2 linked regions of the Homo sapiens genome follow. The protein of the gene in region 1 purifies or fractionates together with the protein of each later gene. This does not show direct contact. Each region holds a gene or a part of one and is shown in the gene's direction. Other genes may lie near its edges.

Evidence for each region.
Region 2: the proteins of GASK1B (region 1) and EXD3 purify together in Homo sapiens (affinity purification with mass spectrometry; one large-scale study listed by BioGRID and IntAct). This does not show direct contact.

What each region holds. Positions count from the first base shown.
Region 1 is NC_000004.12:158,127,907-158,131,726, reverse strand, and holds part of GASK1B (Golgi-associated kinase 1B), read left to right. Parts: intron 1-714; coding exon 715-941; intron 942-3,820.
Region 2 is NC_000009.12:137,412,860-137,416,679, reverse strand, and holds part of EXD3 (exonuclease mut-7 homolog), read left to right. Parts: intron 1-3,820. UniProt on the Homo sapiens protein: Possesses 3'-5' exoribonuclease activity. Required for 3'-end trimming of AGO1-bound miRNAs.

The sequences.
Region 1 (3,820 bases):
CATAAATATTATTTCTTTCCTTACCCAATGGAAATGGAATTAAACAGTTCTTCTTTTTCTAATTAATCTGGTTACCCTCTTCTATAGGGTGGTATCCTTAACTCCCATAATAAACTTCAGTAGGCCCATTTTGTTCATATGTTTAGAATCTAGCTGTGGCCTCCATTTAGATAGTGCTTTTAGGTTTTATGATTTGGTCTCACATCTTTTCAATAGATTTCTTCTATGTGATTTCAAGTTAGCTTACTGTAATACTGAAGTCCAGATAGGCTAGGGGATGCAATAAACTTTTTGTGGCAATGAAGTAACTCCAATTTCCCATAAGCCACCTGAGGGAGAAAACAAGACAGAGCCTTCCAGACACATAGAAGTACAATGGTGTTTCTTCTGCTGTGCGTGGAGTCAGAGATTGTGCTGGCCATGTGTCTGTATGTGATGTCAGTGGGAACTTTGAATATTTAGGGTGGAGATGCCTAACTTGGATAATCTGACTTTGGATCTATTAGCAGAAGCTGGAAATGCTTATAACTATGACTGAGTCAGAAGGATATGAACCTTGGACTTGTTCTGACAGTTGCCTTTAATTAAATGAGCCTGGCCCTCTTAGATTCTGGCAAGTCAGCTATTCAGAAAGCACTGATCTTTGAAAATCTTGTAACTTTCCCAAGTTTTGTTTTCACTCAGCATCTTGGATTTTGTGTTTTCCATTTACAGATTTATAATCGCTTAGATACAAATTGCTGTGGATTCAGACCTCGCAAGGAAGATGCCTGTGTACAGAATGGATTGAGGCCAAAATGTGATGACCAAGGTTCTGCGGCTCTAGCACACATTATCCAGCGAAAGCATGACCCAAGGCATTTGGTTTTTATAGACAACAAGGGTTTCTTTGACAGGAGTGAAGATAACTTAAACTTCAAATTGTTAGAAGGCATCAAAGAGTAAGTTTTATAGTAACATCTGCAGGACATCACATTTATGTTAGATAAGTAGCAAGGTTCTGAGAAAACTCACATCTTACATCTGATCATTTTAACCCTTGAAAATAATTGTGAATGTGGAATCTGGGAATGGAGACCCAAGAAAGGAAACAAACCCAAGAAGAACAGAACCAGAGTGCAGCCATAGCGCCTCTATCAACAACCAATACCGCCTACAAAGTGCATGCTACATTTCACATTCATGATGTTGCTTGGTTCTCATTGTGAAAATCCATGTGGGTTTTGTTGGAAGAATGCAGGGACCTCTGGCATAGGATTTGGCAGAGCAGGGATAAGCAGGTGGCAGAGGCTCCATTATTAGGCATAAGATAGGACATGGGAAGAACTAATAGATGTGCAAATATTGACATGGCAGAATGTCTAAATTCATAATGAACTCAAGTGACTTTTATGAATGCAGTGGAAAATGACAGCCAATCTGGTAAGTAAGGCATAGTCTCAGAGGAAAGCTGGCTGTAGAATTCAGCAGGTGGATTTTTCAGCATTTTGAAATCCTTCAAGGAGACATAGATTAAGGGGAAAAGTATCTAACACCTGAAAGAGAGGGCTTATGGAGGCTAGTTAGGGAAGAATTATTTATTTACTTAGGGTTGACCAAGAATTCAGGGAAGATCTCAAAGATCTGGGGACATCCGACAAGACTCAGAAAGAATGCTGAGTGGAGAGGGAACCAAAGAAGGAGTTCTGCAATGCAGAAGTTAAAACACAGTGGTTGCTCATGGCACACTTGATCATACATCTATTGGAAATAAAGGAAATTAGACATTTAGTAATGGCAAGAACCCAGCTATAAAGTGTGAGCTGTTCAACCCCAGCAGTGGAAATTGTGGCTAGATTTCAAGCTCCACTGCCTAGTGGGCAGAGCCACTCTCCATACTTCCCATCTTAGTCAGAAATCAGATTGACTAAGAGACTGCGGTAGGGTGGAGACCTAAAAATAGAGGGTTCTTTGGTAAAATAGGTAACCAGCTGTGTGAAGCTAGGTGACTGCTGGAAACCTCATGAGCAAGTCTCAAATTGAGGTTAGAACCCAAGTCTTCCAAATCCAAGTCCAGTATTTTTTTTTTCTGTAATAACTGTGGTGCTAATTCTGTAGTAACTGTGGTGTGCTCTGTTACTATTATTCTTGTTAATAATATTCTGGAGCATATTTCAATCATTCTTCCTAAACACTATTACTTACATGGTGTGGATTTTATGTACTTTAGCATTAAGAGCAATACTGTTGCTATGAGAGTTTTATGAGACATGATTTTATAAGTTTTTGCCGGGTCCTGCCCTGTTGACACTTGTTTCTCACATCTCTTTGTGGATTGAAGGCAGGTTATGTGGCAGGTTCTCTCTTTTAAGCTAAGGAAATTTTATGTATCGGAAAATTTACTTTCCTAAGACATCACTTACTAAGGTGATATCGCAGGGTCTTCTTGAATCCCTAAATTCCCTCTTAGAATTAGGAGTGCCTGAAGAATACAGTCCATCCATTTCATACATTCATGTAAATGTGAATATCTTTATTTCTTCTTTCAAAGAAGATTTACATTTAAATGCATTATGAGGAGTAATGGGTTTGAAGTTAAATCTTCTTTGAAAATATAATTCACACATTGAAAAGCAAAAATGAAGGCTTTTCTAACCCCCAATTTATGCACTGAATATTCCTACTATTATATCAATGTAGTGCAGAGACAGGTAATATTTTTGCTTTCCTTTATGAAAAGGATTAGCCACTAAAGAGATCTAATGGTTTTAACGATTTCATCTCATACATTCTGCCACAGTTAAATTAGTTGAAGGGCTATAGAATTGACAATTCATGGATTATTAACACTTCATAAAGCAAAAATGCTACTTAATACTAGAGCCCCTAAAGTTGAGGCCCTAAACTATATAGTAATGTCTTCAGGGAACTCAGAGCATCTTATAAACATTCTTTCATTCCGCACTTCCTCACACACATTAAGCAAGTCCGGCGCCGTGGCCTTTGTTCTTTCTGCAGCATCAGAACTGCTGGAGCACCTGATCCTTGGCTTTCGGGCACCCTCTGTGCCATCTCCATTGTGCTCCATTGAAATTTGGAAGAGGTGCTTAGAAGGCCTGAAATTTCTGGCAAAGTGTACTCTTTAAGCAAGTATATATGTTCTTACTATAGTTTTTGAGGTATAACTGAGTTTATTAGAAATGTACTCTTAAAACAATATTTTTACTGTGCTTTTATCAGCATTTTAGTGAAAGTTGAGAAATGTCAAATTGGGGATTTAGCAAAATATTACTTATGTTTTTGATCTAGAAATTTTGCTAAGTCCTTCAGATAATGTATATGCTGGACTCCTGGCTTTCTAAACGAAGAAAAGCAAGCACAATGCATTCTTTTAAGGTAATTCAGCAAAGACCCCTCTAAATTGGTCTTAGGTTTTCCAGAGAGACTTTCATTGTGGAACTAAAACTTTTCTCTGAAACTTGAGTTTTGCTGAATTTATTTGAAAACATCTTAACACTCTAGCTAAATAAAATGATCCTAAATCCTCAGAGCTCCAGGAGTATAATATGACTCAGAGACAATTCTTTCTTTAATTTGATGTTTTTGAATGAATCTTATCTCATTTTAGTACACACATTTTTTATTATTTCACATAAATTCAGTTGTGTAACTTCTATTCAGGCAGAATACTTTATTGAAGTTGTCATTATCAATTTGTCTCTCATATTTTCTTGCATAAAATCCCACCTTGACACATCTGAGGATACTGTTCTACTTGACAGATTAAAGGGGTTTCCACAGGTGAAATGAGCCTAAGACTAAGAAAAGTATTTCTGCCAAT
Region 2 (3,820 bases), on another chromosome or scaffold:
CATCCTCCTCAGAGGGTGGCCGCCTGGCGTGGCGCAGGATGATGCTCTGAGCCGGGTTGCCCAGCACGTGTTAGGGTCCTGGGTGGAGAGGACCTTTGGGAAGCAGCAGCCGGGCTGACGAGGGTCCGGATGCCTGCCCGGGGACCAGCGAGGTTCCGGGCGCCTGCCCGGGGGTCAGCTGGGCCGGCCGGATGTTTCTGGTGGAGACCTGGGAGGTGAGGCGGTGGGCTGCCGGCGGTCCCTCCCTGGCTGTGCAGAAGCTGCGGTGGAGTGTGAGCTGGACCTGGGGGTGCCCGGCCTGATGGGAAGGTGGCAGAGGCTGTGTGACATGGAGATAGGTCGTGAGGGCCCCAAGTCCGCCCCTTTGTCCCTGTGGGTCCCTCACTCTGGGAACCTCGGGCTGCTGAGGACTGAGACGTGCAGTGCCCTCCCCCTGGTGGAGCGGCCACCCAGCCAGCCACCGCAGAATTCTTGGCCCTCAGGCACTGCAGAAGAGCGAAAGCCCTGGCTGTGGGTCCCAGGTGTGGCTGGCAGTGGCCGGCGGCAGGCAGAGGCCCTGTCACCATGGGTGAGGTGTGGAGGTGCTAAGGCTAAGATCCCATCCTAGTTTTAACCTTCAAAAATATCATTCATGGTTTTTTCTTTGTTCATGAATACAAACCAGGGTGTATACATTGTGTAGTATTCAGAAAATACAAAACAGAAAGCACAGAGGCACCGTCGGCAGAGCAGCCAGGCCCTCACACGTGCATCTGCCTGGTTTTGAGAAGGGACCTTGCACCGTGCAGCGTGATCCCCTTAGGGCAACGCGACTTTATGCTGCTCTGTGAACCCTTTCCCATGCCATTAAGTATTTTTATAAAACATGGTTTTTAAATGCTGTTTATCATTCATCAGATTCTACCTTGTGTGATCAGAACTGGGGTCCTTGGGAAAGCCCACCCTTGATGGGGGACTGTTGGCCCCAGCCCCGTCTGTGATGGTGACCCCAACATGTGCTGTTGGCACCTCCCAGAAAGGGTTCCCCAGAGCCCATGGGCCACCTGACCCGTCCTTGCAGCTGTCCCATGGTACATCCATGTGTTGTGGGCAGTGAGCTGCAGGGAGGTGGGGTGCACAGAGAAGCTTGCCGCAGAGCTAAAACCAACACGGTGAACAGGGAAGGTGTCCTTCAAAACCGCAGCCTGGGCAGGAGCAGTGGCTCCTGCCTGTAATCCCAGCACTTTAGGAGACCGAGGCAGGCTGATCACCTGAGGTCAGGAATTCGAGACCAGCCTGGCGAACATGGAGAGACCCTGTCTCTACTAAAATTACAAAAATTAGCTGTGCATGCCTGTAATCCCAGCCACTCAGGAGGCTGAGGCAGGAAAACGGTTTGAACCCGGGAGGCGGAGGTTGCAGTCAGCTGAGATCGCCCCACTGCACTCCAGCCTGGGCAACAGAGCAAGACTCCATCTCAAAAAACAGAAAAAAAAAAAACAAACCTGTGACAGGCCCAGCGCAGTGGCTCACGCCTGTAATCCCAGCATTTTGAGAGGCCGAGGTGGGCGGATTGCTTGTGGTCAGGAGTTCAAGACCATCCTGGCCAACATGATGAAACCGCGTCTCTACTAAAAATACAAAAATTAGCTGGGCGTGGTGGCAGGCACCTGTAATCCCAGCTACTCGGGAGGCTGAGGCAGGAGAATCACTTGAACCCTGGAGGCAAAGCTTGCAGTGAGCCGAGATCGCCCCCCTGCACTCCAGCTTGGGCGACAAAGTGAGATTCCGTCTCAGCCTGGACAACAGAGCGAGACTCCATCTCAAAAACATAAAAACAAACATACAAAGAAACCCTGCGACCTACGTGGAGCCCACGGGGGCCAAACATGCCAGCACCCCCCTGGAGTGGCGGTGTGGGACCCCACACCTGTCACACCTGCTGGCCTCCTTCTCCATCTCCTGTGCAATATCCCTGGAAAGTTACTTTTTGTGTTTAAAATTGGTCATGTTAATTGTTAAGGAAAGGAACAATCCTTAAGTTAAATTGGTAAGTTTAAAAAAACGAAAGACAGACCGCAACAGGCGTTGGTGAGGCTGTGGAGAAATCAGAACCCTCGTGTGTTATCGATGCTAGCGTAAAATGGCACGTCCACTGTGGAAACAGTCTGGTAGTTCCTCAAAAAGCTAAACATAGAAACACCGAGACTCAGCAGCTCCAGTCCTAGGAATGTGTGTCCCCAGATCAGTGAAAACACACTCCACACAGAAACATGCACACAGCTGTTCACAGCAGCACTGTTTATAACAGCCAGACAAGGGGGTGCGGCCCGAATGTCTGCTGGACAAACAGCCCGTGGTCTGTGCACACAGTGGGGCAGGACTCAGCCACGGAAAGGCAGTTCCAGCACATGCTGCTGCAGGGATGAGTTTTGAAGACACCATGCCAAGTGAGGTCAGTCAGCCACAAGAGAACAGAACCTTGGCCGGGCGCGGTGGCTCACGCCTGTAATCCCAGCACTTTGGGAGGCCAAGGGAGGTGGATCACGAGGTCAGGAGATCGAGACCATCCTGGCTAACACACAGTGAAACCCCGTCTCTACTAAAAATACAAAAATTAGCCGGGCGTGGTGGCGGACGCCTGTAGTCCCAGCTACTCGGGAGGCTGAGGCAGGAGAATGGCGTAAACCCGGGAGGCAGAGCTTGCAGTGAGCCGAGATGGCACCACTGCACTCCAGCCTGAGCAACAGAGTGAGACTCCGTCTCAAAAAAAAAAAAAAAGAAAAAAAAAACAACAGAACCTGTGTGGTCTCCTTTATAGGAAATGCCCAAAATAGAAAGATTCACAGAGACACAAAATGGCCAGGGGCTGAGGAGGGGCAGAGGGAGTAATTGTTGATGGGCACATGGTTGGTTGTCTTTGGGGCAATGAAAATGTTCTGGGCTGAGGCAAGTGGATCACGTGAGGTCAGGAGTTCAAGACCAGCCTGGCCAAACATGGCAACACCCCGTCTCTACCAGAAATATAAAACTTAGCCGGGTGTGGTAGTGGGCGCCTGTAGTCCCAGCTACTCAGGAGACTTAGGCACAAGAATCACTTGAGCCAGGAGGCGGTTACAGTGAGCTGGGATCGCACCACTGCACTCCACCCTGGGTGACAGAGCGAGACCCTGTCTCAAAAAAAAAAAAAAAAAAAAGCTAGGCCAGGCGCGGTGGCTCATGCCTGTAATCCCAACACTTTGAGAGGCTGATGCGGGCAGATCACAAGGTCAGGAGATCAAGACCATCCTGGCTAACACGGTGAAACCCCGTCTCTACTAAAAATACAAAAAATTAGCCGGGCGTGGTGGCAGGCGCCTATAGTCCCAGCTACTCGGGAGGCTGAGGCAGGAGAATGGCGTGAACCCGGGAGGCGGAGCTTGCAGTGAGCCAAGATCACGCCACTGCACTCCAGCCTGGGCGACGGAGTGAGACTCCGTCTCAAAAAAAAAAGTTCTGGAGTTGGATAGTGGTGATGGTGACTCATGTATGTGAACATGTTGAAAACACCGAGTTGTAACTTTGAGGGTAAATTTTATGGTATGTGAATTATATCTCAAAGTTATAGAGCAGTTACTGAGGCTGGGTGTGGTGGCTCACGCCTGTAATCCCAGCACTTAGGGAGGTTGAGGCAGGAGGATTACCGAGCTCAGGAGTTTGAGACCAGTCTGGGTGACGTAGTGAGACCCCATCTCTACAAAAAATACCCCTCCCAAAATTATCCAGGTGTAGCGTGCACTCCGGTGGTCCCAGCTACTCAGGAGGCTGAGGTGGGAGGATCGTTTGAGCCCTGGAGATTGAG